5 separate regions of the Homo sapiens genome follow, and regions 1, 3, 4 and 5 are each linked to region 2. The links come from fine-mapping of genetic effects on gene expression. A gene starts in region 2. Each other region holds a variant in brackets. All regions are shown on one strand. Distances are from middle to middle.

What was found. PIP is the estimated chance that this variant, and not a neighbour inherited with it, causes the effect. A credible set is the group of variants that fine-mapping cannot tell apart.
Region 1: its variant is the best candidate, but not a certain one, in a credible set for the expression of TEX101 in whole blood (INTERVAL, PIP 0.58).
Region 3: its variant is the best candidate, but not a certain one, in a credible set for the expression of TEX101 in whole blood (INTERVAL, PIP 0.68).
Region 4: its variant is the best candidate, but not a certain one, in a credible set for the expression of TEX101 in whole blood (TOPMed, PIP 0.82).
Region 5: its variant is the best candidate, but not a certain one, in a credible set for the expression of TEX101 in whole blood (INTERVAL, PIP 0.60).

Annotation. Positions count from the first base shown.
Region 1 is chr19:43,367,223-43,373,704 of GRCh38, reverse strand. It overlaps the pseudogene CD177P1. Among named protein-coding and RNA genes, the nearest start is that of CD177, 17 kb to the right of the region's middle. The variant G/A (reference allele first, on the strand shown) is at 2,994.
Region 2 is chr19:43,411,608-43,418,089 of GRCh38, reverse strand. It overlaps TEX101 (testis expressed 101), which reads right to left and starts at 3,200. Exons shown (of 6, transcript NM_001130011.3): 1 at 3,052-3,200; 2 at 2,107-2,209; 3 at 1,848-1,991; 4 at 1,535-1,717; 5 at 84-212. The coding sequence starts at 2,170. RefSeq lists a silencer at 4,813-4,999.
Region 3 is chr19:43,287,894-43,294,375 of GRCh38, reverse strand. No RefSeq gene overlaps it. Among named protein-coding and RNA genes, the nearest start is that of PSG9, 22 kb to the right of the region's middle. The variant A/C (reference allele first, on the strand shown) is at 3,910.
Region 4 is chr19:43,359,843-43,366,324 of GRCh38, reverse strand. It overlaps CD177 (CD177 molecule), which reads right to left. Exons shown (of 9, transcript NM_020406.4): 6 at 5,920-6,060; 7 at 4,997-5,182; 8 at 4,746-4,880; 9 at 3,153-4,237. The coding sequence ends at 4,005. Among named protein-coding and RNA genes, the nearest start is that of CD177, 9.4 kb to the right of the region's middle. RefSeq lists an enhancer at 1,619-2,120. The variant C/T (reference allele first, on the strand shown) is at 3,820.
Region 5 is chr19:43,321,041-43,327,522 of GRCh38, reverse strand. No RefSeq gene overlaps it. Among named protein-coding and RNA genes, the nearest start is that of LINC03078, 7.2 kb to the left of the region's middle. The variant C/T (reference allele first, on the strand shown) is at 3,070.

The DNA of each region.
Region 1 (6,482 bases), 44 kb after region 2:
AGCTCTGGAGCCCCTGCTGCCCTGGGAGCTGCCCAGTCCCCAGCCCAGCTTTCCCTCTCACCCTCAGGACTCACATCAACCCTGGTGGCGACCTAAAGCTGCAGCGCTGTTGGGGCTCAAAATTCCCAGAAGACCACCATCCACTCAGCCCCTCCTGGGGTGCTTGTGGCCTCCTATACCCACTTCTGCTCCTCGGACCTGTGCAATAGTGCCAGCAGCAGCAGCGTTCTGCTGAACTCCCTCCCTCCTCAAGGTATGGGATCCAGGGCCGTGGAGAAATGAGGCCCAGACACACAGAGACTCTGGCCCAAGGTGGGCAGCTGCTCTGAGCACAAAGTCATGTACCCCCACCTTCCCTCTGCTCCCCAGCTGCCCCTGTCCCAGGAGACCGGCAGTGTCCTACCTGTGTGCAGCCCCTTGGAACCTGTTCAAGTGGCTCCCCCCGAATGACCTGCCCCAGGGGCGCCACTCATTGTTATGATGGGTACATTCATCTCTCAGGAGGTGAGTGCTGCAAGCAGGGCCCCAAGGATGAAGGCGCTGGTGTCCTGGGCTCCTGGGACTGAGGGAGAAGGGGCTGGGGGCCTGGACTCCTGGGTCTGAGGTAGGAGGGGCTGGGGGTCTGAGCTCCTGCGTTTGAGGGAGGAGGGTCTGGGGCCTGGACTCCTGGGTTTATGAATTTGGCTGGGCTGTACTCTGTGTCCTTTCTGACTTGGTCTTCTCCCTCTAGGTGGGCTGACCACCAGAATGAGCATTCAGGGCTGTGTGGCCCAACCTTCCAGCTCCTTGTTGAACCACACCAGACAAATTGGGATCTTCTCTGTGTGTGAGAAGGGTGATGAGCCGCCTCCTGCCTCTCAGCATGAGGGAGGTGGGGCTGGGGGCCTGGAGTGTCTCACTTGGGGGGTGGGGCTGGCACTGGCCCCAGCGCTGTGGTGGGGAGCGGTTTGCCCTTCCTGCTAACTCCATTTCCCCCACGATTCTTCACCGCTGCTCACCACCACACTCAACCGTCCCTTGTGCTTGTAACCTAATGGCCTTGGACACCAGATTATTTCCCCATCCTGTCCATGAATCATCTTCCCCACACATAATCATTCATATCTACTCACCTAATAGCAACACTGGGGAGAGCCTGGAGCAGCCGGACTTGCCCTGTGGGAGAGGGGACACTGGAGGAGTGGCTGCATGTGTCTGATAATAAAGACCCTGTGCTTTCTCCCAGTGCTGGGATTTCTCCATGTAAGGGGACAGCAGGACGCCCAGGGATCTAGCATGGTGGAGGAGAGGAACCTAATGAGAAAATGGCCATCCAAAGCCTGCCCTTCATTGGTCTGGTTCATGTCTCCAAACCAGCTTGGATGGTAGCAGAGACTTCAGGGTGCTCCAGCCAAACGTATTTGGGCATCACCATGACCTGGGAGGGGAAGATGCACTGAGATGTATGAGGCTTCCAGCCTAGCAGCCAGGGCCCTAGCACAAACAGGGGGCTGGCCCCATCTGAGCGACTGCAGGAGAGGTTAGTATAGTCATGCATTGCTTTACGACAGGGACGTGTCGTTAGAAATGTGTCGTTAGGTGATTTTATCACGAAAGGAACATTGTAGAGTGCACTTACACCAACCCAGATGGTACAGCCCAATACACACCCAGGATGGATGGTAGAGTTGACTGCTCCTAGGCTACAAGCCTGCAGTGCATGTTATGGTGTGAATACTGCAGGCATCGTAACACCACGGCAAGTATTTGTGCATCTATACACATCTAAACATAGAAAAGGTACAGCATAAATACACTATTGTCATCTCAGGAGACCACCGTTCTATACGCAATTCGTCACTGACCCAAACGTTGCTATGTAGCATCTGCCTATTGTGGGATAATTGACATAAGGGCTAAAGAGAACTCCAGAAAAAAATGGGTTAGCATTTTCCCAGAGCTGTTACCATTGGGTATCTCTTACCACCATAGCCCAAAAAGGGTGAGGAGAAGAGCCACTGCTGGAATCTGCAGACAGAGAGAGAGAGAGAGAGAGAGACATAGACAGAAAGAGACAGAGAGAGCTGGAGAGAGAGCCGGAGACAGAAAGAGAGAGATATTCAGAGAGGGTTGCCTAACAAGAGCTCCCATCTCAGGCTGAAAAACGCGTCCAGCCCGCAATGATACTGGGGAGGGAAGTGGGGAACTAAAATTCCAAACTGATGTCCTCACTCTGGTCTCCAGTTGAGGTTCCCCATTGACTGAACCCCCTAGAGGCCACAGAAGCAGGAGACTCCACTGGTCCAGCCCCCATAGATCTGCCATTCACAGTAGAGAACAGAGGAGAGGAAAGGGAAGAGGAGAAGAGAGTGAATCTGGAGAAGGAAACAGAACACGTCTAGCACCGTTCACTCCCTTGCCCCTCGGCATCCACCCTTTCCCTTTGTCCAGATGAAAATCAGAGTCCAGGACAGGCTCGGTGGCTCACGCCTGTAATGCCAGCACTTTGGGAAGCTGAGGTGGGAGGATCACTCGAGCCCAGGAGTTTGAGACCAGCCTGGGCAACATAGTGAAACTGCTTCTCTACAAAAAATACAAAAAATTAGCCGGGTGTGGTGGTGCGTGCCTGTCTGTAGTCCCAGTACTTTGGGAGGCCGAGGCGGGCAGATCATGAGGTCAGGAGATTGAGACCATCCTGGCTAATACCGTGAAATCCAGTCTCCACTAAGACAACAAAAAATTAGCCGGGTGTGGTGGTGCACGCCTGTGGTCCCAGCTACTGAGAAGGCTGAGTCCAGAAGGTCAAGGCTGCAGTGAGCCAAGACTGCACCACTGCACTCCAGCCTGGGGGACAGAGCGAGACCCTGTCTCAAGGGGGAAAAAATAATCAGAGTCCTCCGTACAGACGACACACAATTCCAGTCCTTCCCTCTGTCACAGTAACAGTGTGTGATGGTGACAGTGATGTCCTCCTCCCATTGTGCTGTGCACCAGTTCTTCGCCCACAATGAGAG[G/A]AAGATGGGGAAGAGATGGCTTCCAATACAGCTGCTGAGGTCCTGGGGGCGGGGCTGCTGGTGCTCAGAGCTGCTTTCTTCCAGTACATTCCACATTGTCCTCCCACCTCCAAAACCTCCTTTGGATGTTATTTGTTACCTGCAGTGTAACCCAAATCTTGATTCTTATGGAGAGTGAGTCTTGGATGGCCTTGTCTTTAGTGGGTTTCTATAGTTTTCCATGGAACAGGGCCCTGGCCAAGGAAATGTTACCGCCATGAGTTGCCTGCCTTCGAAAATAGCCTCCTTGTCCCAGCCACCCGACCTCCCTCTGTAATCAGATGCCATTCCCCCGACTGCAGAGTGACGTCTCCTTTGCCTGCTGTTTTGGCAGCACAAGGGGCACAGGATGGCTGGAGGGCTGTCATGGCTTCCTGCAGATCAGAACTAGGAAGAGATTCCTCATCCACAGCAGCCCAGGGCCACGGGGACAAAGAGCAAGCATTCTCTCAGTGGGCTGGCAGGTGCAGTCACGGGAGGGAGCCGCGCTTATTCTTCCTGTCTTTCCTGGATCTTTGCATCTGGCCCTGGGGCGCGTGACCCGATAGCCTGGTTGCTGGTTTATAAGATGTGTGGCCCCTCCTGTGGGTGGTGGGGTACGGTCTCCCTCCCGGTGCCCTGATAAGCCACACATGAGCCATTGCGCCAATCTGAGAAGCAGCTGTGTCTGTATAGAGGGGCACCTGAGACGGTCAGTGGGTTCCATGGGTGTGAGTTAATTACCCCCCATTCTTTGCGTTAACACGTGTCCCCAGTGGAAGCAACCCTGCATGGGTTCCAGAGCCACAGGAAAGGCGCTGTTCACAGAAGCACTGAGCAGGGTCCAGGGAAGGCCAACTGGAACCCCCAGTGTGTGCGTATCCGTGTGAGGACAAAGCCCAGTCCCCTCCAGGATGGGACGTGTCCTGTGTGGCCAGCCTATCTGCAGTGGCCGGGTAGTCCTCCTGTAAAATGACGCCTTCCAGGGGCTTAGCCCCGGGCTCTGCCTACACTGGGCAGGGCTGGGTACAGTGTGCAGCCAGGCCAGTGCTGGGAGACTCAGTCCACTTGTGGTAAGGTACGTCGCCGTCCTCCCTATCCATGTGGCCATCTGCACCTGGACCCCCTGAACAAGCTCTGAGGGACAGAGTCTGCCTGACACCATCCACCAAACACCAAGAACCTCATCCCCACAGCACAGGTTCTGGGCTTAAGGGTGGGGACGGCATAGCTCACACTTTGTGCCCATCCCCAGAGGAACATCCATGTGTCCTCCCTGTCTTAAGTTTACTCTTTTATTCTCTTCAAGTCCTTGACCATGTGGCCCGCTCTGGGTTCATGCAATGGACCCAAGTCCATCCCTCCTTGCAGAACCCCTGAGGTTCTGCCCATCTGAAGGATTTCCCTTCATCACTCCTCAGGACCACCTGAAGTGGGCACTAAGGCAGCCGCCGTCCACTTCTGCTGGGCGCCAGCTCACCGTGAGGACCCATCCATAAGCCTGGTCTGCACTTTCCTCCTCTGTATGAGGTCACAGGGCTTCCCAGGAGCTCACAGATGTGGTAGAGGGAGGGGCAGGAGGACAGGTGCCATGGGAGCCTGAGTCACTTGCAGTCGGGGGAACGGCATCTCATTACAGAGGGAGGTCAGGTGGCTGGGACAAGGAGGCTATTTTCGACCTTTGGGAATTACAGCTGAACGTGAGATTTGTGTTCGGACAGAGGAAAGCCATATCATTTGGCTTGTTTACACCTTTGGCTAGTGTGAATAATGCTGCTATGAACAAAGACATGCAGATACCTGCTGGGGCCCCTGCTCTCAGTTCTTTTCAGAATACACCAGAAGTAGAATTGCTGCATCGTGTGGTAAGTCTATGATTAATTTTTTGAGAAATGACCACAGTGGTTGTGCCATATTATATACCCACAAACACTGCACAAGCATTCCAATTTCTCCTCGCCAACACTTTGTTTTTTTTTTTTTTTTTTTTTTCAGAACTGCCATCAGAACAGATGTAAGGTGGTATCTCACTGTGGTTTTGATTTCCATTTTCCTAATGATAAGTGATGTTGACCAAATTTTATTTGCTTATTGGCCATTTATAAATTCATTTTACATTTCCTCCTTTGTAATGCCAGAGGTGGCACACTGTGCACTGTTCTGCTTCTTGTTTTTCTCACTGTGCAGTGTATCTTGGAAGTCTTTCCAAGTGGGTCGACAGAAGGATACTTCAATAAAAATGGGCAACACCGCTGGACAGCCATCAGAGCCATGAAGTCCCTGGCTTAGGGGAAGGCAGAAGGAGGGTGAGAAACAGAGAGATCGAGAAAGGCAGAGAGAGAATGGGGGCAGGGATGGAGAGAGAAAGAGAAAATGATAAAGACCCAGAGAGAGACAGAGTCAGAGATATATGGGGGTGGAGAGGGGAGATACAGAGAGAGGCAGAGAGGAAAGGGTACAGAGACACTAACACAGAGAGATGGAGGGAGGGGAGAGGCATGGACAGAGGGAGAACTCAGAGAGTCAGAGCCAGAGAAGTAAAAGGTGTGCCGTAGAGAGACACAGGGCAGGACTAGGGTGAGACAAGAGAGGACCCAAGCTTGTGGATCCTTGATTAAAAATCAATGGTGTTATAATAAGAAAGAAAAAGGAAAGAAAGAAAGAAAGAAAGAAGGAAGGAAGGAAGGAAGGAAGAAAGGAAGGAAGGGACCAAGTGAGAGGGAGACAAAGACAGAGAGAGACAGGGAGACACAGAGATGAAAAGACACAAAGTGAGCCAAAGACACACAGTGAGGAGGAGACAGAGCCAGAAACAGAGACCCAGTGCGGTGGAAAGAGAGAGGCAGACAGACAAGAGCAGCATCTTCAGGGCGACCCGATGCCCAGTGCCCCTGAACTGCTCCACGGGGAGGTGGCTGAGCGCACAGCCTGCATCCCATCCATCATTTCCTGGCCTTCGTGACTGGGTGACCGTGCACAATCCAGTCCCCGTCTCTGAGCCTCAGTTTCCACACTGTAAACCAGGCATAGATACACCACCTCAAGGGTGGTGGAGAGGGCTGGGCTGGCTGTTTCTGCTTAATGCCCCCTCATGTTTCACAAAGGACCCCATGAACTGTGATGAGAGTCACTGTTCATTATCATGACGGCTTCCAGTACTTACAGCAGTCAGCACTAATGTCATGCACATCATCAGCACTTGGCATGAATCCCCATTCATTACAGATCAGTATTAATTGAGTCGATGCTCTGTGCCCGATACTTGTACACTCATAACATGGATTGTTAATTTAATTGAGACAACCACAGTCTGAGGTCAGTGATATCACGATCATCTCCACTTTCCAGAGAGGAAGCTCTGCTGGTAAGGTGCGGAGCTGGGGTTCAAACCCAGGTGGTCTGGCTCCAGGGCCAGGTGTGCCCAGGAGCAGGGCTCTTCCTGGGTGTCCAAGGCCACCTTGTCTCCAGGAG
Region 2 (6,482 bases):
GAGAGCTCAGTGTCAGAATCTCTGGGGAGCCACTCAAATGGTTTTCCAGCCTCTGAAACTATCAGATGTTCATTTCAGTTTACCTCCAGTGATCTCAAGTTTTCCTTGATAGCATCGAGTTGTACCATTGGGACAGGGAAGAGAAGGAGCACTGAAACAGGTCCCCAAAGCCACACAGGTTGGACAATGGAGGGTTGTTGACACAGTGGAAGCTGGAGGGAAATGAGAGAGACAGTTAAGGGCAGGTCCTGCCTCCAGAGATGTTGCTCCTTGCTGCCTTCTCTTCCCCAAGATTTTCCTGCAGATGCCACTCTAATCAAGGCCCATTACTTCAGCCTCCCCATCCTTCCCCAGCTGGTGTTCTCTGCTGTGAAATCTCCATCGATCTGACTTCCAAACTCTGCTGAGGTGTGAAGATACAGAGATGAAAAGGACATAGTTCCTGTCACCTGGCATCTCTGCCTAGGAGAAAGACATGTAAGTAATCAATTCAGTAGCTGCTGTGTTCAAGGTATAATGACAAAGGAATGGAGGAATACCCAACTACCTAAAAGAATTTGGCAAATATTTTCAAAGAGCTGATACCTGAATTGACATGGAGGATGAACAGGGGTTAGCTATGTGAAAATGGGGTGGGGAGGGTAGTAAAGGAAACAGCAAGGACAAAGGTCAGGTGGTGTGAGCCAGCTTGGTGGATTCAGGGAATTGTGAGAAGTTGCACGACTCATATTCAGCTTGTAGGCCCAGCTGTTTCTTTGATCTGTTTTTTTTGTTTTTGTTTTTGTTTTTTATGGCCAGAATCCATTTTGATTGGCCAGTGCCATCTACATTGTTAAGCATTTTGAGTATTAGCCCCAGTTAGCACACAGTAAATGAGAGAGGGAAGAGAGGGAAATGAAGCTGAAAAGACAGGAAGGGCCAAGTTACTACAGGCCTTGTAAATTGGGGAACTGGGCCGTTCTCGTGCAGCAGTGGGAAACCAATACTTGTTAGACTGATAATACCACCCTGTTCGGAAACCTACACTGATGTCTTATTGCTTTTTTTTTTTTTTTTTTTGATGGAGTCTTGCTCTCTGTCCCAGGCTGAAGTGCAGTGGTGTGATATTGGCTCACTGCAACCTCTGCCTCCTGGGTTCAAGCAATTCTCCTGCCTCAGCTTCCCGAGTATCTGGGATTACAGGTGTGCGCCACCAGGCTAAGCTAATTTTTGTATTTTTAGTAGAGACAGGTTTTCACCATGTTGGCCAAGCTGGTCCCAAACCCCTGACCTCAGGCGATCCACCTCACCCAGCCTGTCTTATTGCTTAATAAACACAAAACCCAGTTTACACTCCAGGCTTCACTGGTATCTCGCTGCTCTGAGCAGTGTTTAGATCCCAATGAACAATTCAGAAACATAAAATTACTTGAACTGTGAGGTACTTTGGGGTATGGACCACTTAGGCTAAGCCAAGTCAGAATGCAAAGGGAGGCCATACACAAGCTCTTTATGGAGTTTCTCTTAGTACCTATCTCCCCCACTTCCAGGGTACCTGTGGTCTCACTGAACTCCCAAAACTGAGACAGGCTGTCTTTGTCATTACAGAAGGAATCCTCACAGTAGTTACTGTAGGAGGTCACGATCAGGCCGGGAGGTGAAGAGTGCTGGACAATTGTTATGGCCTCCTCCCCTTCCGGGATGCAGCCCTTCGTGGCCAAAATGGCTGTCTCAGTCCCTGTTATGAGACAGGAAGGAGGGGAAATGGATGGTGGCCGTCACAATTGGCCTGGACGAAGGGAACAAGCATTGGCATGGAGATAATCAACCTCCCTCCTACCCAGCCCAAATGCCCCATCTCATTTCACCTGCTTTAATTATTAGTATGGTTTCCTGGCAAAGTGCCCCTTTGTCACAAGTCTCCACTTCCTCTGTGGTCCAGTTAAACATATTGGCTGGATCTGCTTCCACAGTCATGGACAGACCCTTTTGACAATACAGCTCTAGGCCCGCTGAGGAGAAAACAAGAAAAGGATAAGCACTTCTCCATGGGCCAAGGCGGCTCCCTTTTCATCATCAGTCCACCTTCTGTGACACACGGCTCTCCCCTATGTCCCCCATACGCACAGGTCAGGAGGGAGGCTCCTAGGACCAGGAGGATCAGCAAATGCTGGATACGAGGGGTTCCCATGGCTTCTTCTGGAGAGGTCTGGGAGGAGCTGGTCTGGATCTGTGAATTTGATGGAGAGAAGGCAATTAACTTTTCAGCCAGAGTGCATGAGATCAAATCTAGGTCCTGGCAAGTACTGACTTCAGGGTGGGGTGTTTTAATCTGCATTTTTTTTTTTTTTGAGACGGAGTCTTGCACTGTCGCCCAGGCTGGAGTGCAGTGGCGCAATCTCGGCTCACTGCCTCTGCCTATCAGGTTCAAGCAATTCTCCTGCCTCAGCCTCCCGAGTAGCCGGGATTACAGGTGCCCGCCACCACACCCAGTGAATTTTTTGTATTTTTAGTAGAGATGACGTTTCACCATGTTGGTCAGGCTGGTCTCGAACTCCTGATCTCAGGTGATCTGCCCGCCTCGTCCCCCCATAGTGCTGGGATTCCAGGAGTGAGCCCTGATGCCCGGCCTCACAGTGGGGTTTATGGTGTATATGACCACGACTTCTAAAGTCGTTCTGTCCCTAACCGGCTTGTGAGCTGGAGCGAGTTCACAGGTTTATCACGCCCCAGTTTTTCATGGTTTTAATTCTCAGGCCCGGCCACCCAGTGCCCTCCAACTTCAGGATCAGGAGTGTGGCCCTGAAGGCCGCTTCTCCCTCAGTCTCAGGGGTCCCTTACATTCTCTCAGGGACCCAGAATCTCGGCCCCCAGCCCCAGCCCCAGCCTCATCAGAACCCGGGATTCTGAGAGCCCAGCCCCGTCCTATGTAGGGATCGAGGAGTCTGGGTTCCAACCACCTTTTCCTGCGGGACACACCATTCTGGTCCCCTCCCTCTCAGGCCCGGGAGCCCAGGCCCCCAACCCTCGTTCCCCTCAGAGCCAGGATCTGGGTCCCCAGCCTTCTCTTTCCTCAGAATCCAGGAATCTGAGTCCCTAGCCTTCTTTTTCTCTTTAAAGAAGCAAAATTGCTGCCGGCTTCCAGGCAGACGCCTCACAAGAATCTCACGACGCCAAAGTTGAGGCCCGGAACGCCTTCTCCCCGGGCTTGGCATTCTCTTACGACGCAAGGCCGGGCCAGCCTGGCCACACAGCACTCGAAACCCCATTGGTGGATGCAAAAGCATCGGATAAGTTCATTGGATGAGCCTGGAGGAACGCGGCACCTCATTGGCCACAGAGAAGTCAATTCCTGGCAATCTCGGAGGGTGCGCATGCTCGGAAGGTGAGTGGCGGGCAAACCGGCCGGAAGATCCTGCCTGTTTTTGCAGCCAGAGGCACGCAATGGAGGGTGGGCAGTGCGTTGCCAGATGGCCTCGCCTGGCCCATTTCTCTTTTTGCACTCTGTTGTCTCTGCTTCTCCAGCCACACTAGGAGGTCAGACCCTTGGCCCTCACTCACGGAACTTATCTCCCTACCCAAATGGCCTCTCATGTTCCCAGCCTGGCCCCTGCCTCGGCACCCACCTTAGTGGCCCTAGCCTCTGGGAGTCAGCTTGGCCTCTTGAGTCTTCACTTGCAGTGGCCCCTGTGCAGCCCAGGCGTCTTCATCTGATTGCGCTATCGCACCAGCCTCCTCATGGTCTCCTGGAGGGTTGAATCTAGGAATGCCCCCCTCAGCATCACTTTGGGCACCCCGAATGCATGCATGAGCAGTAGCTATGATGGCACAGGCTGCTGTCAGATCGAACCCACGCGTCCGTGTCAGGACCATGAAGAAGACATGTCACTCGGATTTGTTGCTCATGGCTGGCAGTTCACTTTCACATCTATGTAACCTTCCCTTCCCTCCCCTCCCCTCCCTTCCCCTCCCCTTCCCTTCCCTTTTTGACAGACTTTTGCTCTTTTTGCCCAGGCTGGAGTGCAATGGCACAATCTTGGCTCCCTGCAACCTCCTCCTCCTGGGTTCAAGTGATTCTCCTACCACAGCCTCCCAGGTAGCTGGGATTACAGGCATAAGCTACCATGCCTGGCTAATTTTTTGTATTTTTTTTTTGGAGACAGAGCCTCTCTCTATCCCCCAGGCTGGAGTGCAGTGACGTGATCTCAGCTCACTGCAACCTCCCTCTCCCAGGTTCAAGCGATTCTCATGCCTCAGTCTCCCCTGAGCAGCTAGGATTACAGGCACCTGCCACCACACCTGGCTAATTTTTGTATTTTTAGTAGAGACGGGGTTTCGCCGTGTTGACCAGGCTGGTCTTGAACTCCTAACCTCAGGTGATCTGCCCACCTCGGCCTCCCAGAGTACTGGGATTACAGACGTGAGCCACCACCCCTGGCCTATGTAAGCTTTCCAGGTGTGACATGAAGTTGTAGCAGGATGAGCTGCAGACAAAACTCCTCAGATACTGGATTAAAGAAGGAAGAGGTTTATTTGGCCGGGAGCCTCAGCAGACTTGCGTCTTAAGAGCCGAGCTCCCTGAAAAATAAATTCTTGGCCTTTTTTTTTTTTTTTGGAGTCTCCCTCTGTTGCCCAGGCTGGAGTGCAGTGGTGCAATCTCGGCTCACTGCAAGCTCTGCCTCCCGACTTCATGCCATTCTCCTGCCTCCGCCTCCCGAGTAGCTGGGACTACAGTCACCCACCACCACACCCGGCTAATTTTTTTGTATTTTTAGTAGAGATGGGGTTTCACTGTGTTAGCCAGGATGGTCTCGATCTCCTGACCTCGTGATCCGCCCGCCCCCCAAAGTGCTGGGATTACAGGCATGAGCCACCACGCCTGGCCAATTCTTGGCCTTTTTAAAGGCTTACAACTTCGAGGGGTCCACATGAAAGGGTCGTGATAAATCGAGCAAGCGTGGGAAACGTGACTGGGGGCTACATGCATCAGGTAACAGAACAGAAAGTTTTGCAATGCTTTTTCATATAATGTCTGGAACTTACAGATAACACAAGTAGTTTAGGTCAGGGGTTGCTGTTATTATTATTACTTTTTTTAACTCCTAGGGCTGGGTGGTGGTGCCAAGGTTGACTGGCTATTTATCTTACTTCTGTTTCTTTCCAACTTTTTGCTTTCTCTCTTTCCTCCTGTCTTGTGAACTAGGCAAGGTCGGGGGAGGAGGGCAGCAGGAGTAGTAGTGGTCTCCTTCCTTAAAGTAAGGCAACGCTTTGTATACTTTCAGAATTGGTACTGATTCTGTAAGTTATAGTATAAATGAGTATTTATTTTTAATAGAGAAAATGCCACAATAAGAAAGGGATTGGTAAAGCTTCAATCCCTTTGTTATCTTTGAACTGTTATCTTTGAATGATCACATGTCAAAGGATCCAGGAAGAATGTGTGCCAGTTTTCAGCCCCCGTCTGTCCCCCGAGGGCTCGTGCTTGGGAAAGCAGTCACCTTGTTGAGTCACTCTCCAGGTGACTTGGTCGCAGAATCCCTCCATCTCACACCTAGAAGAGACCTTGGAAGCCTAAGCACCCTCCACCTCTATTCTTCACCCCATTTCTGCTTCAACAGCTCCAGGGACCTCCTCTTGCTCCGTGACATAGTTTGGATATTTGTCCCCCGCCCAAATCTCATGTTGAAATGTAATTCCCAGTGTTGGAGATGCGACCTGGTGGAAGGTGTTTGGGTTATGGGGGCAGATCCTTCATGACTTGGTGCTGTCCTTGCAATGATGAGTGAGTCCTTGCCAGATCTGGTTGTTTAAGTGTGTGGCACCTCCCCTTCTTACTCTCTCTCGCTCCCCTTCTCTGGCCTGCATCCTTTTGCCATAAGTAAAAGCTCTCTGAGGCCTCCCCAGAAGGAGATGCTGGCACCACGCTTCCTGTACAGCTGCAGAACCTTGAGCCAATCAAACCTCTTTTCTTATAAATTACTTCTAGTCTCAGGTATTTCTTTATAGCAGTGCAAGAACACCCCAATACACAGCCCCTTGAGAAAGGTGGCTTTGCCTTTTTGGTGCAAGAGAGATTGACAGATCTTCCTTAGCCTGAGCCAATTTCTGTTCCTCTCCAAGCTTCAGTGTCCTCATCTAGAAAATGAAGAGGTTAGGCTGGGTGCAGTGGCTCAAGCCCATAATCCCAGCACTTTGGGAGGCCAAGGTGGGTGGTTCACCTGAGGTCAGGAGTTTGAGACCAGCCTGACCTTCACCAACACGGTGAAACCCTGTCTCTGCTAAAAATACAAAAATTAGCCAGGCCTGGTGGCACGCGCCTGTAATCCCAGCTACTTGGGAGGCTGAGGCAGGAGAATCACTTGAACCTGGGAGGCGGAGGTTGCAGTGAGCTGAGACTGCACCATTGCACTCCAGCCTGGGCAACAAGAGCAAAACTTGGTCTTGGTCTCAAAAAAAAAGAAAAAAAAGAAAAAAAAGAAAATGAGGAGGTTAGTCTAGAGCAA
Region 3 (6,482 bases), 120 kb after region 2:
TTCTCCTGCCTTCAGCCTCCTGAGTAGCTGGGATTACAGGTGCGTGCCACCACGCCTGGCTAATTTTTGTATTTTTAGTAGAGATGGGGTTTCACCATGTTGGTCAGGCTGGTCTCAAACTCCTGACCTTGTGATCCGCCCACCTCGGCCTCCCAAAGTGCTGGGATTACAGGCATGAGCCACCATGCCCAGCCGGTAAACTTTTTTATCAGACCTTTCCTTTCACCATTCCATTTCTGTCACCCTCACCCATCTTCTCCTCTGACTTTTTTCTCTTCAGTGACTTACTTGGTCTAATATGCTGTTTAGCATCAAAAGCCACACTACAAATTCTTTTGTGACTCTCTTGGAATGTTCTTGTGATGTCCAGAACCTTGGAAGCCTAAGCCTTACATCAGTGTGCCCTGAATATGAGATATGGGGTCAAAGGAGATTATTTTGGAGCTTTAAGTTTTAAAGACTGTGCTGCAAGGTTTCAGACTTTCATGGGGCCTGTATCTTATTTCCTTCAGCCTATTTCTTCCCTTTGGAATGGGAGTATTTACCCAATGCCTATACTTCCATTGTGTCTTGAAAGTAACTAACTTGTGTTTGAATTTACAGGCTCATAGGTAAAAGGAACTTGCCTTGTCGCAGATGAAACTTGCTATTTTGGACTTCTGAGTTAATGCTGAGTGAGTTAAGACTCTAGAGACTGTTGGGAAGCCATTCTTATATTATTAAATGTGAGAAAGACATGAGATTTGGGAGGGAAGATGGAGAGAATAATTTTTTTTGGACCTTTACCCCCACCCAAATCTCAAGTCAAATTGTAATCTCCAAAGTTGGAGGTGGAGCCTGGTTGGATGTGATTGGATCATGGAGGTGGTTTCTCATATGTTAACACCATTCTCCTTGGTGCTGTTATAGCAACAGTGAGTTTTATCTGGTTCTTTACCAGTGTGCAACCCTTGCTCTCTTCCTCCAGCTCCCATTATATAAGATGTCTTCCTCCACCACTGGCTTTCTCCATGATTGTAAGTTTTCTGAGGCCTCCTCAAAATCTGAGCAGATGCCAGAATCATGCTTACTCTACAACCTGCTGAATCATGAGACCATTCAAACTCTTTTCTTTATAAATTATTCAGGTTCATGTATTTGTCTGTAGCAATGTAAAAACAGACTTATACAGCCTTATTTTCAGTAGAAAAAAAACTAGGGAGTAAACCATTCTAACTATGTACCAGATGCAAAGCCCAAGACAAAGAACAGAGCTATGAAGAAAATGCCTGGATAATCCCACCTCTCCCAGCATGGCCAAAAGGCACAGCTGGAGGATGGGATGGGTTTTGTCCCCAGTTCTTACTATGGTCACTCATCTAGAACTCAGAATTTAAAGCTTCAAATATAAAGACATAAGCTCACAGACAAATTAAGAAAATGTATATATACACAAGCAACTCTTTGATGACCTTAAAACATCTAGTAAAGACAATATAAACCTGCCTGCCAACAGACATAGGCAAAAGTGTATAAATTAAATTATGAAGACATTTCTACTTTATTTTACCAACAATTTTAAAGCTATCTATATTCACCAAAGGTTACTAAAATCACATATATAGAAAAGCATTTGGGCTTATTCACTTAATTTGTGAGTACTCATTTATTTTTACATTAATTTGATACTATGTGTAAACAGTATATAAACGTGTGACATATACATATATGTGATGAAACATATATATGTTCACATAAAGATAGAGAGAGACAAAAAGATTCTAGAATTTTGATTTTAGGAGTTTAGGCATGAGATCAGTAAAACCCACCATTTTAAAGGATAGTTGGATTCAAATTGCTGTCTTGTAAATGGTAAAGGTTAACATTTATCTGAGGAAGGCTTTACCTAGTTTTAGAGAAAATACATAGCACATTTACATCTCAAAGCAAAGAGAGAGAGAGAGAACTTAAGCTTTTTCAAGAGAAAATTTGGTGTGTTCAAGGAAGATTAAAAATAGATGCCAAGGTAACACAAAAAAATAGAAATTTACCATGGGGTTTTATTTTTTTATTATACTTTAAGTTTTAGGGTACATGTGCACAACGTGCAAGTTAGTTACATATGTATACATGTGCCATGTTGGTGTGCTGCAACCATTAACTCATCATTTAACATTAGGTATATCTCCTAATTTCATGGTGACCACCAGGTAGAAGCCACATTTGCATAATAAAAGAATAGGATGGGAGGGCCAGTCTTTTTTCAGGCTATGTAAATGGAACACCTGGTCAAAACAATCCCCTGGACCCTATGTAAATCAATCACTGCCTCCTTAAGTCTCTGTACAAAATCAATTGCATTCCACCCCAAATTGGAGACCCTCTCTTGGGTGACTGCTTTCTCAGTATGAGAAAGCTTTTTCTCTCTCTCTTCTTTTTTGTCTGTTAAATTTTTCAATCCTAAACACACTCCTCATGTGTTTCCATGTCCTGAATTCTTTCTCAGTGTGTGACAAAGAACCATGGATAGATTCCCAAACAGAGTCATTTTATTTGGGAGTTCTCATCTGGGATTGTGATCAGAAGAGAAGATAGAAACATCAGAATGGTGAGTATGGAGCAAACCTCAAATCTGTCCTTTAATTTCAAGGTTCTCTTCCAACTAGTTTCCTTTCATGGAGAACCTCACCATCACATGAGGCTGGGGGATGTCCTGGAACAGCTGAGAATTTCTGGCCAGGACACACCCTGATGTTATTCAAAGGCTTCTGGACTGAACACAGCCTCCGGCAGCCCATCCAGATGTTGGTAATGGGTCTCCTAATTTGCTATCCTGTTGCAAATTTGTTCTTCCTTTCTATCCATGGTCTCTATGTCTCCTATTCTTTCTGTGTATGCAATATGTGGAAATTTTTACAGTTCAGGGAAACAGTTCTGTTAGGAAAGATCGGTAAATGCTATAATAACTAACCCAATAGGTGTCTCAGTCTCTCTCTCTCTCTCTCTCTCCTTCCTTTGGTAAGCACGTGGTATTTCTAAGCCAACAATGTCATCTAGTAGAAATAGAAATCCTCCTCATAAGGCACATTGTTGGTCCTTTGCCATAACACTGCACTTTTCCAATTCTCTCTTTTTGCACTGATAGAAAAGCCCTTTCTGTGAATGGGAAAGCTCTGCTTTCAACAATTAGGAGTAAAATGTCTTCCATAGCCAAATTTTAGTTCTGATACTGCTGCATCAGCAGGAAAAACTGCCATTAGGTCCCTACATTCATTTAAAGTACCTATTCTATCTCCAATTAGAACAGTATTTAATTAGTAAGGATACTTTAAGAACAGAGTTAACCAGGACCACTTTTCTGAGGGTAAATGCTTTAGCACGTATCTGGCAACTGGCACATTCCCTCTGTTAAAGAAAGCTTGCTCAAAGGCAACTGTTACAGTTTCTCGAGAGATCCATTTTTCAGGAAGCCAGGCAGATCACAGGCAGATAAGCTAATGTTGCATGGGTAAAGTGTGGCTAATCCCATCACTTCATTTATCTAGTTCCATGGCTTACAGGGCCACACCTACAACCATGGGCAGCACATTTAACATAGTGCCGGGACTCAGGAACCAAGGAGAGAAAACAGTTGGGGGGACGCTCCCACTGTCTTCCACTCCACTCTGGGTCTCAATGAAATAAGGAGGACTATAAGGACACTTTTATTCTCACTTCTTTTTCTCAATGGCTAACAGAGCATCTTCAGCTTGCACCCCTCTGGAGCGCACTCTGAGGCACTAGAACTCTTTTAACCTCAGGACTTTCAAGAGAAAAGCAACTCATTCTATTTTGCAAAATGACAGGGCATTTTTACTAAACCTTTACAAGCATTGTAACAGCAACCCAGATTTTTTAACAGCCATATCAGGCAGGCTTATAAAGAATAAT[A/C]TCCTAGAATTAGAAAAGCAACTTCCAAGGGAACCATCTGAGAATCTCCATAATTTGGGGTCCCTCCAAGTTCCCTTCTCATTACAGGACCTTAGGCAAATAAAGTAAGACTTAGGCCAATTTTCAGACAATCCTGACAGGTATATAGAAGCTTTCCAGAATTTAAGTCAGGTGTTTCACCTCACATGGAAGGATGTTATACTGCTCCTAATCCAAACCCTAACTGCAGCTGAAAAACAGGCAGCTCTGCAAGCAGCAGAGAATTTTGGAGATGAGCAACATATCTCCTATAATACACCAAAAGGGAAGGAAGGAGATACAGAAAGTGAAGAAATAGCAGAAACACCATTCCAAATAGTAAGTGAAGCAGTACCTCTTGACAACCCTGATTGAAACCCCAATAGCCCTGTAGATGAATGAAAAAGAAAAACTAAGGCCAGACCTCTTAATTCCTCTAAACTGTCTAGGATAGACTCAAAGCCAGATGAGAATCCTGCAGCCTTTATGGATAGGTTGAGAGGGGCACTATTAGCACACACCTTTTTATCTCCTGATTCAGTCAAGTGACAGCCCATTCCAAAAGATAAGTTTATTATACATAAAGCTCCCAATATTAGAAGGAACCTATAAAAGGCAAGCTATAGTAGCAGATAGCACCTTGGAAAACCTTCTGAGGGTAGCCACTTCAGTCTTTTATAATAGGGACTAGGAGAAGGCCCAGAAGAAAGAGAGAAAGCTCAAGAGAAGGACAAAGCCTCTAGTAGCTGCTTTGCAGAGTTGCAAAGTCCAGGATCCCAGAGGTGTATCCACTAGTTGCTCTCGGTGTGGCAAGCCAGGGCATTTGAGGAAGAAGTGTCCAAAGAGCAAGAGGAAGCCACCTTGACCCTGTCCAGCCTGTGGTGGAGACCACTGGAGATGCAACTGCTCCCAGAGATGGAGGTCACTGGGTTCAGAACCAGTCTCACAGTGGTCCAGCAGGACTGATGGGTCCTGGGGCTCAAACCCCTGGCTCCAGCAGCTCAAACTGCCATTACAGCACAGGAGACACAGGTCATTCTGGAAATTATAGGGAGGAAAGTAGACCTCCTTCTAAACACTAGATCTAGTCTCTCTCTTTTCTCCTTTCTTATCCAGGCCTCCCCTCTTCCCATAGCACAACCATAAGGGGTGTCTCAGGAAAAATTCTAATCCAATATTTTTCTCAGCCTCTTATTTGCAGTTAGGAGGACCTATTTTTTACATCTGCTTCCAAACCACTGTCACAATAGCTCTACTAATCAGAAAAGCCTCCAAATTAACCCTAGGAAAAAACGGTTTACACCCCCACTTAATGTGGCAAAATTACTTTCCTCTAGAGGGAGCTCTTAGCTAACAATCAGCTGGTAAAGCAAGAAATACGTAAGGTAGGATAAGCAGTAGTCACTCTAAATAATATCTCTCTTCAGGTGCAGGTGCTCAATCAGCTAAACAAACAGTTAATACAAGAGCACTTAAATTAAGCAAGGGAAAGGTAGCTAACATTTACACTGATTCCAAGTATGCTTTTTGAGTTCTTCATGCTCATGCTGCCATTTAAAATAAAAGGCATTTTCTTACCACTAATGGACTTCCTATAAAATATCACCAAAAAATTAACAGGTTATTATCGTCAGTTTTCTTTCATGAGAAATAGCAGTGATACATTATAGAGAACATCAAAAAGGGAACAGATGAAGTAGCCAAAAGAAATAGGTTCACTGATCAGGCAGCTAAGTCACTGGCAAGGCATCAACACACCTCAAAGCCTTCTAATCTAGGAAGACTCCATAAGATAAATTAAACCTCAGTACCTTCCTGCAGAAATAAAATAGGCCACTTCTCAGGGTATCCTTTCCAGTCCTCAGAATGGCTGTAGTCAGAGGATGGCAAACTCCGTTTGCCAGCCTTCAGCCAACGAGAAATCCTTAAAATCCTTCATCAAGCTTTTCACGTAGAAGAGGATAAAACTTATCAATGTGCTCACAGATGATTTTCATATAGAAAATCTCTAAATTGGTTAAGCATGTAACCTCTCTAGCTCACTTCCAACAGGACACATGTAGCAAAAGCCCAACCCCAGGAAATAAGACCACCCTTATTTAACCCAGATTTGGTATTAGTAGAAACTCTCTTCTCTCTCCCTCTATCTCTCTCCTTAAGTTAAGTGGTTAAAATGGCACATTATATATATACACACATATATATATATACACACACACACATACATATATATACATATACACATATACATACACACATATATATGTGTGTATATTTATAGACATATGTATCTACATGTCAAATTTATATGAATATATATTCACATCTAACAAATACAAGTATGTATGTGTTTCTATATACACACTCAACCACAATTTTTTGAAAAGTGTTTGGTGAAAAAAAAACCCGCTGTGTAAAACACACCCACCCTAATCACATAGCCCTCATACACTTCCATGCAGACCTCTCATGACATTATCTGCAGACAGGTTCAAGAAGTACCGTCCAGCAAACAGCACATGCACAACATAAATGTATTTGCAGAGACTCAGAGC
Region 4 (6,482 bases), 52 kb after region 2:
GCCACTGCACTCCAGCCTGGGTAACAGAGCGAGACTCCATCTCAAAAAAAAAAAAAAAAATAGAAAGAAAGAAATGAACCACAGCACTTCCCAGTACATTACTCCAGTTGGAATTGCAAAATATTATTCTCGATAACTCCTGGATGAGTATATTTAGAGTATATTTAGAAACGAAAAAATGTAAGAGAGTCTATGTTTCAAATCTAGTGCATTATTTTATGGAGATTTTCACAAGCTCCAAAAGATTAACAGTGCAGAGCTGGAGGTTCTAGAGAAATTCCGCGCCTCCTCCTGCAGGTAACTCTGACCATTCGGAAAGCAGCTCTTGGCTCATCCCTGGGCCAAGTGCAATCAAGTTCAGGGCCGGGTGCTCTCTGAGCTACCAAACCATAACCTGGGGCATGCACAGCAGCCTCCAGCATCCACGGGACAGCTGAGCATGGGGTCAGGCTCAAGCAGGTCTGAGGCCAGCAAGTGACTCAGGCTCCCATGGCACCTGTCCTTCTGCCCCTCCCTCTACCACATCTGTGAGCTCCTGGGAAGCCCTGTGACCTCATACAGAGGAGGAAAGTGCAGACCAGGCTTATGGATGGGTCCTCACGGTGAGCTGGCGCCCAGCAGAAGTGGACGGCGGCTGCCTTAGTGCCCACTTCAGGTGGTCCTGAGGAGTGATGAAGGGAAATCCTTCAGATGGGCAGAACCTCAGGGGTTCTGCAAGGAGGGATGGACTTGGGTCCATTGCATGAACCCAGAGCGGGCCACATGGTCAAGGACTTGAAGAGAATAAAAGAGTAAACTTAAGACAGGGAGGACACATGGATGTTCCTCTGGGGATGGGCACAAAGTGTGAGCTATGCCGTCCCCACCCTTAAGCCCAGAACCTGTGCTGTGGGGATGAGGTTCTTGGTGTTTGGTGGATGGTGTCAGGCAGACTCTGTCCCTCAGAGCTTGTTCAGGGGGTCCAGGTGCAGATGGCCACATGGATAGGGAGGACGGCGACATACCTTACCACAAGTGGACTGAGTCTCCCAGCACTGGCCTGGCTGCACACTGTATCCAGCCCTGCCCAGTGTAGGCAGAGCCCGGGGCTAAGCCCCTGGAAGGCGTCATTTTACAGGAGGACTACCCGGCCACTGCAGATAGGCTGGCCACACAGGACACGTCCCATCCTGGAGGGGACTGGGCTTTGTCCTCACACGGATACGCACACACTGGGGGTTCCAGTTGGCCTTCCCTGGACCCTGCTCAGTGCTTCTGTGAACAGCGCCTTTCCTGTGGCTCTGGAACCCATGCAGGGTTGCTTCCACTGGGGACACGTGTTAACGCAAAGAATGGGGGGTAATTAACTCACACCCATGGAACCCACTGACCGTCTCAGGTGCCCCTCTATACAGACACAGCTGCTTCTCAGATTGGCGCAATGGCTCATGTGTGGCTTATCAGGGCACCGGGAGGGAGACCGTACCCCACCACCCACAGGAGGGGCCACACATCTTATAAACCAGCAACCAGGCTATCGGGTCACGCGCCCCAGGGCCAGATGCAAAGATCCAGGAAAGACAGGAAGAATAAGCGCGGCTCCCTCCCGTGACTGCACCTGCCAGCCCACTGAGAGAATGCTTGCTCTTTGTCCCCGTGGCCCTGGGCTGCTGTGGATGAGGAATCTCTTCCTAGTTCTGATCTGCAGGAAGCCATGACAGCCCTCCAGCCATCCTGTGCCCCTTGTGCTGCCAAAACAGCAGGCAAAGGAGACGTCACTCTGCAGTCGGGGGAATGGCATCTGATTACAGAGGGAGGTCGGGTGGCTGGGACAAGGAGGCTATTTTCGAAGGCAGGCAACTCATGGCGGTAACATTTCCTTGGCCAGGGCCCTGTTCCATGGAAAACTACAGAAACCCACTAAAGACAAGGCCATCCAAGACTCACTCTCCATAAGAATCAAGATTTGGGTTACACTGCAGGTAACAAATAACATCCAAAGGAGGTTTTGGAAGTGGGAAGACAATGTGGAATGTACTGGAAGAAAGCAGCTCTAAGCACCAGCAGCCCCGCCCCCAGGACCTCAGCAGCTGTATTGGAAGCCATCTCCTCCCCATCTTTCTCTCATTGTGGGTGAAGAACTGGTGCCCAGCACAATGGGAGGAGGACATCACTGTCACCATCACACACTGTTACTGTGACAGAGGGAAGGACTGGAATTGTGTGTCATCTGTACGGAGGACTCTGATTTATTTTTCCCCCTTGAGACAGGGTCTTGCTCTGTCGCCCAGGCTGGAGTGCAGTGGTGCAGTCTTGGCTCACTGCAGCCTTGACCTCCTGGACTCAGCCTTCTGAGTAGCTGGGACCAGTAGAGGGAGGGGGCGCACACCACCACACCCGGCTTATTTTTTGTATTTTTTTGTAGAGAAGCGGTTTCACTATGTTGCCCAGGCTGGTCTCAAACTCCTGGGCTCAAGTGATCCTCCCACCTCGGCTTCCCAAAGTGCTGGCATTATAGGCGTGAGCCACCGAGCCCGTCCTGGACTTTGATTTTCATTTGGACAAAGGGAAAGGGTGGATGCCGAGGGGCAAGGGAGTGAACGGTACTAGACGTGTTCTGTTTCCTTCTCCAGATTCGCTCTCTTCTCCTCTTCCCTCTCCTCTCCTCTGTTCTGTAGTGTGAATGGCAGATCTATGGGGGCTGGACCAGTGGAGTCTCCTGCTTCTGTGGCCTCTAGGGGGTTCAGTCAATGGGGAACCTCAACTGGAGACCAGAGTGAGGACATCAGTTTGGAATTTTAGTTCCCCACTTCCCTCCCCAGTATCATTGTGGGCTGGACGCGTTTTTCAGCCTGAGATGGGAGCTCTTGTTAGGCAACCCTCTCTGAATATCTCTCTCTTTCTGTCTCCGGCTCTCTCTCCAGCTCTCTCTGTCTCTTTCTGTCTATGTCTCTCTCTCTCTCTCTCTCTCTGTCTGCAGATTCCAGCAGTGGCTCTTCTCCTCACCCTTTTTGGGCTATGGTGGTAAGAGAGACCCAATGATAACAGCTCTGGGAAAATGCTAACCCATTTTTTTCTGGAGTTCTCTCAAGCCCTCATGTCAATTATCCCACGATACGCAGATGCTACATAGCAACGTTTGGGTCAGCGACGAATTGCGTATAGAACGGTGGTCTGCTGAGATGACAATAGTGTATTTATGCTGTACCTTTTCTATGTTTAGATGTGTGTAGATGCACAAATACTTGCCGTGGTGTTAAGATTGCCTGCAGTATTCACACCATAACATGCACTGCAGGCTTGTAGCCTAGGAGCAGTCGACTCTAGCGTCCATCCTGGGTGTGTATTGGGCTGTACCATCTGGGTTGGTGTAAGTGCACGCTACAATGTTCCTATGGTCATAAAATCACCTAACGACACATTTCTAACGACACGTCCCTGTCGTTAAGCAATGCATGACTGTACTAACCTCTCCTGCAGTTGCTCAGATGGGGCGAGCCTCCTGTTTGTGCTAGGGCCCTGGCTGCTAGGCTGGAAGCCTCATACGTCTCAGTGCATCTTCCCCTCCCAGGTCATGGTGATGCCCAAATACGTTTGGCTGGAGCACCCTGAAGTCTCTGCTACCATCCAAGCTGGTTTGGAGACGTGAACCAGACCAATGAAGGGCAGGCTTTAGATGGTCATTTTCTCATTAGGCTCCTCTCCTCCCCCACGCTAGATCCCTGGGTGTCCTGCTGCCCCCTCACATGGAGAAATCCCAGCACTGGGAGAAAGGACAGGGTCTGTATTATCAGATACATGCAGCCACTCCTCCAGCGTCCCCTCTCCCATAGGGCAAGT[C/T]CGGATGCTCCAGGCTCTCCCCAGTGTTGCTGTTAGGTGAGTAGATATGAATGATTGTGTGTGGGGAAGATGATTCATGGACAGAATGGGAAAGAATCTGGTGTCCAAGGCCATTAGGTTATGAGGTCAGAGGGAGGTTGAGTGTGGGTGGTCAGCAGCGGTGAAGAATCGTGGGGGTAATAGAGTTAGCAGGAAGGGCAAACCACTCCCCACCACAGCGCTGGGGCCAGTGCCAGCCCCACCCCCCAAGTGAGAGACTCCAGGCCCTCAGCCCCACCTCCCTCATGCTGAGAGGCAGGAGGCTGCACATCACGCTTCTCACGCGCAGAGAAGATCCCGATTTGTCTGGTGTGGTTCAACAAGAAGCTGGAAGGTTGGGCCACGCAGCCCTGAATGCTCATTTTGGTGGACAGCCCACCTAGAGGGAGAAGACCAAGTCAGAAAGGACACAGAGTACAGCCCAGCCAAGTTGTAAACCCAGGAGTCCAGGCCCCAGACCCTCCTCCCTCAGACCGAGGAGCCCAGACCCCCAGCTCCAGCTCCTCAGACCCAGGGGTCCAGGCCCCCAGCCCCTCCTCCCTCAGACCCAGGAGTCCAGGCCCCCAGTCCCTCCTACCTCAGACCCAGGAGTCCAGAGCCTCAGCTCCTCAGACCCAGGAGCCCCGGCCCCCAGCCCCTCCTCCCTCAGACCAGGAGTCCAGGCACCCAGCCCCTCCTCCCTGGGACCAGGAGCCCAGGCCCCCAGCGCCTCCTCCCTCAGACCAGGAGTCCAGGCCCCCAGCCCCTCCTCCCTCGGACCAGGAGTCCAGGCCCCCAGCGCCTCCTCCCTCGGACCAGGAGTCCAGGCCCCCAGCCCCTCCTCCCTCAGACCCAGGAGTCCAGGCCACCAGTGCCTTCATCCTTGGGGCCCTGCTTGCAGCACTCACCTCCTGAGAGATGAATGTACCCATCATAACAATGAGTGGCGCCCCTGGGGCAGGTCATTCGGGGGGAGCCACTTGAACAGGTTCCAAGGGGCTGCACACAGGTAGGACACTGCCGGTCTCCTGGGACAGGGGCAGCTGGGGAGCAGAGGGAAGGTGGGGGTACATGACTTTGTGCTCAGAGCAGCTGGCCACCTTGGGCCAGAGTCTCTGTGTGTCTGGGCCTCATTTCTCCACGGCCCTGGATCCCATACCTTGAGGAGGGAGGGAGTTCAGCAGAACGCTGCTGCTGCTGGCACTATTGCACAGGTCCGAGGAGCAGAAGTGGGTATAGGAGGCCACAAGCACCCCAGGAGGGGCTGAGTGGATGGTGGTCTTCTGGGAATTTTGAGCCCCAACAGTGCTGCAGCCTTTTGTCCCCACCAGGGTTGATGTGAGTCCTGAGGGTGAGAGGGAAAGCTGGGCTGGGGACTGGGCAGCTCCCAGGGCAGCAGGGGCTCCAGAGCTGGACTCCCTGCCCTTCACAATACCCCCCAGGCAGAGGGTGAATGCCCTGATCACAACTGCTGGGTCATGTTTAGTGTGGGGCAAAGACGGAGGCTGGGGCCTGGGTCCTGCCCGAAGCTCTGCCTCCTCCCAGTTCTCGCTCAAAGGTCACCTTCTCCATGAGTCTCCCCTGAGCACTGAGCTTAAAATTGCAGCCTTCCCCTCACTTTTCCTATCTCCTTTTCCTTGCCAGATTTCTCTGCAGAGCTGGGATCTCCATTCCCCATACTTTGCTGCTTTTTGTTTGTTTGTTTCCTGTTTCTCAAGGCATATAAAGCTGCAGGAATACAGATGGGATTGGATCTGCGGCACCTAAAACAAATGCTGGATAAACATTTCCAGAATGTATGAAGCCACTGAGAGTCCTCGGTGTTGGCACGGTTCTCCACCCTGGGCAGGGATTACCGCATACGTGGTCACCCCTCCCCAGAAAGGCAGACACTGTCATTCCCACTGCTTCACCCCCAGTTTTCATAAGGGGAACCCAAGATGCAGAGAGAAGAAGAGTCGGATTGAAAATTGCAGATGTGAAGGGAGCTGAGCAGGAAATTCAGGGGAAAGAATCCAGTGGGGTGGAGGGAGCTGCCAGGGACTTGGGACAGGTGTTCGTCTTCTACCTCAGTCCACGTACCTACATCTAGGAGCAGCAGCGTCTCCTGACACACCTGCCCCACCTCGCACATCTCGGTATTCGATGTGGTCCAATCAGTGGGTTCTTGAGCCAAGTTTCCGTGTGTCATAATGGTGGTCCCCCGATGACAGGTCAGAAAATCTGGGGAGAGGAATCCCAGGGTGTGTGTAAGCCAGGAACCCACCATGTCTGTCCCTCCACGTCCTGGGCTAGGGAAGGTGATCACACTCTTGAGTCACACTCCAGGTGACCTGGCCACAGATTCCCTTAACCAAGGATTCAGAAGGGACTTGGGAGTCGAAATCCCACCCCCATTGTTCCCTGTTTCTGCTTGAACACCCGCAGGGACGTCCTCTCACAGCCCTGGGGGAACGGCCGTTCCTTGCTTTAGCTGTGAGAGCAATGGAAGCTCTTCCTTATCCTCATCCCATCTCTGCTTCCCCATCTGAGCTTTAAGGTCCTCATTTCAATAATAAGGAAGGCAGCCTGAGACCTTTCTCATACCTTTCAGTTGCAAAGCCCTATGTTCCAAACAAGATGCGAAGGGCCAGGGTGGGCTGAGC
Region 5 (6,482 bases), 91 kb after region 2:
CTTCCTCAGCCTCCGCTCCTCCACCCTGTAATCTTTTTATTGCCTCCCCTCCTCACACCTGGTCCGGCTTACAGTTTCGTTCCGTGACTAGCCCTTCCCCACCTGCCTAGCAATTTACTCTTAAAAAGGTGGCTGGAGCTAAAGGCATAGTCAAGGTTAATGCTCCTTTTTCTTTATCCCAAATCAGATAGCGTTTAGGCTCTTTTTCATCAAGTATAAAAATCCAGCCCAGTTCATGGCTCGTTTGACAGCAACCCTGAGACGCTTTATAGCCCTAGACCCTAAAAGGTCAAAAGGCCATCTTATTCTCAATATACATTTTATTACCCAATCTGCTCCCGACATTAAATAAAACTCCAGAAATTGGAATCTGGCCCTCAAACCCCACAACAGGACTTAATTAACCTCACCTTCAAGGTGTGCAATAACAGAAAAAAGTTGCAATTCCTTGCCTCCACTGTGAGACAAACCCCAGCCACATCTCCAGCACACAAGAACTTCCAAACGCCTGAACCATAGCAACCAGGCGTTCCTCCAGAACCTCCTCCCCCAGGCGCTTGCTACACGTGCCGGAAATCTGGCCACTGGGCCAAGGAATGCCCGCAGCCTGGGATTCCTCCTAAGCCGCGTCCCATCTGTGTGGGACCCCACTGAAAATCGGACTGTTCAACTCACCTGGCAGCCACTCCCAGAGCCCAAGGAACTCTGGGCCCAAGGCTCTCTGACTGACTCCTTCTTGGCTTACCGGCTGAAGACTGACGCTGCCTGATCACCTCAGAAGCCCCGTAGACCATCACGGACGCCGAGCTTTAGGTAACTCTCACGGTGGAGGGTAAGTCCATCCCCTTCTTAATCAATACGGAGGCTACCCACTCCACATTACCTTCTTTTCAAGGGCCTGTTTCCCTTGCCTCCATAACTGTTGTGGGTATTGACAGCCAGGCTTCTAAACCTCTTAAAACTCCCCAACTCTGGCGCCAACTTAGACACTACTCTTTTAAGCACTCCTTTTTAGTTATCCCCACCTGCCCAGTTCCCTTATTAGGCTGAGGCACTTTAAGTAAATTATCTGCTTCCCTGACTATTCCTGGACTACAGCTATATCTCATTGCCGCCCTTCTTCCCAATCCAAAGCCTCCTTTGCGTCCTCCTCTTGTATCCCCCCACCTTAACCCACAAGTATAAGACACCTCTACTCCCTCCTTGGCGACTGATCATGCACCCCTTACCATCTCATTAAAACCTAATCACCCTTACCCCACTCAACGCCAATATCCCATCCCACAGCACGCTTTAAAAGGATTAAAGCCTGTTATCACTCGCCTGCTACAGCATGGCCTTTTAAAGCCTATAAACTCTCCTTACAATTCCCCCATTTTACCTGTCCTAAAACCAGACAAGACTTACAAGTTAGTTCAGGATCTGTGCCTTATCAACCAAATTGTTTTGCCTATCCCCCTTGTGGTGCCCAACCCGAACACTCTTTTGTCCTCAATACCTTCCTCCACAACTCACTATTCCGTGCTTGATCGTAAAGATGCTTTTTTCACTGTTCCCCTGCACCCCTCGTCCCCGCCTCTCTTTGCTTTCACTTAGACTGACCCTGACACCCATCAGGCTCAGCAAATTACCTGGGCTGTCCTGCCGCAAGGCTTCACAGACAGCCCCCATTACCTCAGTCAAGCCCAAATTTCATCCTCATCTGTTACCTATCTCGGTATAATTCTCACAAAAACACACGTGCTTTCCCTGCTGATCATGTCTGATTAATCTCCCAAACCTCAATCCCTTACAAAACAACAACTCCTTTCCTTCCTAGGCATGGTTAGTGTGGTCAGAATTCTTACACAAGAGCCAGGACCGCACCCTGTAGCCTTTCTGTCCAAACAACTTGACCTTACTGTTTTAGCCTAGCCCTCATGTCTGTGTGCAGCGGCTGCCGCTGCTTTAATACTTTTAGAGGCCCTGAAAATCACAAACTATGCTCAACTCACTCTCTACATTTCTCAACTTCCAAAATCTATTTTCTTCCTCATACCTGACGCATACACTTTCTGCTCCCCGGCTCCTTCAGCTGTACTCACTCTTTGTTAAGTCCCACAATTACCACTGTTCCTGGCCCGGACTTCAATCTGGCCTCCCACATTATTCCTGATACCACACCTGACCCCCATGACTGTATCTCTCTGATCCACCTGCTATTCACCCCATTTCCCTGTATTTCCTTCTTTCCTATTCCTCACCCTGATCACGCTTGATTTATTGATGGCAGTTCCACCAGGCCTAATCGCCACATACCAGCAAATGCAGGCTATGCTATAGTACAAGCCACTAGCCTGCCTCTCAGAACCTCTCATTTCCTTTCCATCGTGGAAATCTATCCTCAAGAAAATAACTTCTCAGTGTTCCATCTGCTATTCTACTACTCCTCAGGGATTATTCAGGCCCCCTCCCTTCCCTACACATCAAGCTCGAGAATTTGCCCCCACCCAGGACTGGCAAATTAGCTTTACTCAACATGCCCGAGTCAGGAAACTAAAATACCTCTTAGTCTAAATAGACACTTTCACTGAATAAGTAAAGGCCTTTCCTACAGGGTCTGAGAAGGCCACCACAGTCATTTCTTCCCTTCTGTCAGACATAATTCCTCAGTTTAGCCTTCCCACCTCTATACAGTCTGATAGCAGACCAGCCTTTATTAGTCAAATCAGCCAATTAGTTTTTCAGGCTCTTAGTATTCAGTGAAACCTTTATATCCCTTACGGTCCTCCGTCTTCAAGAAAAGTAGAACGGACTAAAGGTCTTTTAAAAACACACCTCACCAAGCTCAGCCACCAACTTAAAAAGGACTGGACAATACTTTTACCACTTTCACTTCTCAGAATTCAGGCCTGTCCTCAGAATGCTACAAGGTACAGCCCATTTAAGCTCCTGTATAGATGCTCCTTTTTATTAGGCCCCAGTCTCATTCCAGACACTGGACCAACTTAGACTGTGCCCCCAAGAAAACTTGTCATCCCTACTATTTTCTGTCTAGTCATATTCCTATTCTCCATTCTCAACTACTCA[C/T]ACATGCCCTGCTCTTGTTCACACTGCCAGTTTACACTGTTTCTCCAAGCCATCACAGCTGATATCTCCTCGTGCTATCCCCAAACTGCCACTCTTAACTCTTGAAGTAAATAAATAATCTTTGCTGGCAGGACTATGCTGAATCTCCTTAGGCACTCTCTAATCAGATGTCCTAGGTCCTCCCAATTCTTAGACCTTTTATACCTGTTTTTCTCCTTCTTATTCCATTTAGTTTTTCAATTCACACAAAACTGTATCCAGGCCATCACCAATCATACTATATGACAAATGTTTCTTCTAACAACCCCACAATATCACCCCTTACCACAAGATCTCCTTTCAGCTTAATCTCTCCCACTCTAGGTTCCCACCCGCCCCTAATCCCGCTTGAAGCAGCCCTGAGAAACATCGCCCATTCTCTCTCCATACCACCCCCCAAAAATTTTCGCCACCCCAACACTTCAACACTATTTTGTTTTATTTTTCTTATTAATATAAGAAGGCAGGAATGTCAGTCCTCTGAGCCCAAGCCAAGCCATCGCATCCCCTGTGACTTGCACGTATACGCCCAGATGGCCTGAAGTTACTGAAGAATCACAAAAGAAGTGAAAAGGCCCTGCCCCGCCTTAACTGATGACATTCCACCATTGTGATTTGTTCCTGCCCCACCTTAACTGAGTGATTAACCCTGTGAATTTCCTTCTCCTGGCTCAGAAGCTCCCCCACTGAGCACCTTGTGACCCCCGCCCCTGCCCACCAGAGAACAACCCCCTTTGACTGTAATTTTCCATTACCTTCCCAAATCCTATAAAATGGCCCCATCCCTATCTCCCTTTGCTGACTCTCTTTTCGGACTCAGCCCACCTGCACCCAGGTGAAATAAACAACCATGTTGCTCACACAAAGCCTGTTTGGTGGTCTCTTCACACGGACACGTATGAAAAGAAAGACATGAGATTTGAGAGAAACCAGGGAAAGAATGATATGTTTTGGATTTATATTCCCACTCAAATCTCATGTCAAGTTGTAATCTCCAAAGTTGTAGGTGGAGCCTGGTTGAAGGTGATTGGATTATGGGGATGGTTTCTCATGGTTTAACACCATTCCTCTTGGTGCTTTCCTAGTGACAGTGAGTTCTCAGGTGATCTGGTTAAGAGTGTGTAACCCTTGCTGTCTTCCTCCTGCTCTCACCTGTGAGATGCCTTGTTCTGCCTTGGCCTTCCACAATGATTGTAAGTTTCCCGAGGCCTCCTCAAAAGCTGAGCAAATGTGAGAGTCATGCCAAACCATGAGCCAATTCAACCTCTTTTCTTTATAAATTACCCAGTCTCAGGTATTTCTCAGTAGCAATGTGAGAACAAACAAATACAGCATTATTTTCAGGAGAGAAAAAACAGGAAGTAAGCAATTCTAACTAGTTACCAGGTGTAAAGCCCAAGATAAACAGCAAAGCTATGAAGATTATACCTGGAGAATCTAATCTCTTCCAGCATGGCCAAAAGGCACAGCTGTGGGATGGGATGAGTTTTGTCCCCAGTTCTTGCTATGGTCGCTCATCTAGAACTCAGAATCTAAAGGCTCAAATCTAAAGATATAAGGTCACAGAAAAATTAAGAAAATGTATATATACAGAAGCAACCATATGATGACCCTAAAACATCTAGTAAATACAATATAAAAATGTCTGCCAACAGACCCAGGCACAAATGTCTAAATTAAATCTGAAGACATTTCTACTTCATTTTACCAATAATTTTTAAACTATCTTTATTTACCAAAGATTACTAAAATCACATGTATTGAAAAGCATTTGGGATTATTTACTTAATTTATGAGTACTTATTTTTACATTAATTTGATACCATGTATGTAAACAACATATAATCATATGTATGGACATAGACATATATGTGATACAGCATATAACATACACATGTGCACATAAAGATAGAGGGAGGCAGAAAGAGTTTAGAGTTTTGATTTCAGCATAGGACCGATCAAATTCAGTATTTAAAAAAGACAGTTGGATTAAATTTGTGCCTTTGTAAATGGAAGAGGTTAACATTTAATTAAGCCAGACTTTATTGAGTTTTAGAGAAAATTGGTAGCAAATTTACATCTCAAAGCACAGAGAGAAAGAGAACTAAAGCTTTTACAAGAAGGAATTTGTGTGTGTTCAAGGAAGATTAAAAATAGATGCCAAGGTAACACAAAAATGACAGAAATTTACCATAGGATTTTATAAGGAGACCAATTTTATTTAGATAGGCAGCTTTTAATTTGGTCTCTGTTTTCCAACTGGACCACTGAGCTCAGGACAGAGCCCATTAAGGAAGAGGACCAACGAAGTCTTGCAACTTTTAGATCCTAATAATTTAAATACATAAAAAGAAGACCCAGTTGCAAGGGACAGCATCCAGACCTTTATAAATCAAGGATTTCACTGAATCCCAGGTCCCTGAGAAGAGGAAAATGCCAATGGAACCATACTATGCAACACTTCCACAGTGTACTTTGCTATAAGGGCATTTTTCTAATTATTTAAACTGTGTATTTCTTATCTAAACTTGCAAAGAAATGAGTAGCATTCTGAAGTAATAATCATTTATTGCGAGCGCTGTTAGTCACCTCCAAAACCAAAGCTCTTACCAGTGACCCAGCAGCCATCACACATATAAGGTCAAGCATTTTTACAGTGCAAAGTAATCTCTGATGCCCCCAAAAGCCAAAGAGGTCAGGGAAAATGGAAAAGAGAGCAGAGTTTTAGACCTGAGAGGAATCCATTTACTTACAACTCTTGGGGTTCCATGAGGAAAAACAGTGGTTTCTCCTAAATAGGGAAGTCTGTGGCATCTTTTCTGTTTTCCTTAAGGGGTTCCAGGCTGTCAGAAATTCTTTAGGTTCCCTCATGTGGCATCAAGAATAGCAAGAGGAAGGATGGAAAGAGAAATAAGCAGAAAAAGAATTTTTAAGAAAAAAACCAGACAGACTAAGCACATGATTTAAAAAGATTTCAGTCAACTGAAAAAAAATCTTTCAAAGATACAAAAGAGATGGCCAGAGGCAGTGGCTCACATCTGTAATGGCAGCACTTTGGGAGACTGAGGCGGGCAGATTACTCAAGGCCAGGAGTTCAAGACCAGCAACATGGCGAAACCCAGTCTCTAGTAAAAATACAAAAATCAGTCAGGTGTGGTGGCACGTGCCTGTAATCTCAGCTGCTCAAGAGGCTGAGGCCCAAGAATCCCTTGAACCCAGGAGGTGGAGGTTGCAGCGAGCTGAGATTGTGCCACTGCACTTAAGCCTGGGTGACAGAGTGACAGCCTGTCTCAAAAAAAAAAAAAGATACAAAAGAGAAAAGCAGAAAAGCCTTCAATATACATTCAAGTCCTTTCTCAATATATATCCAATAT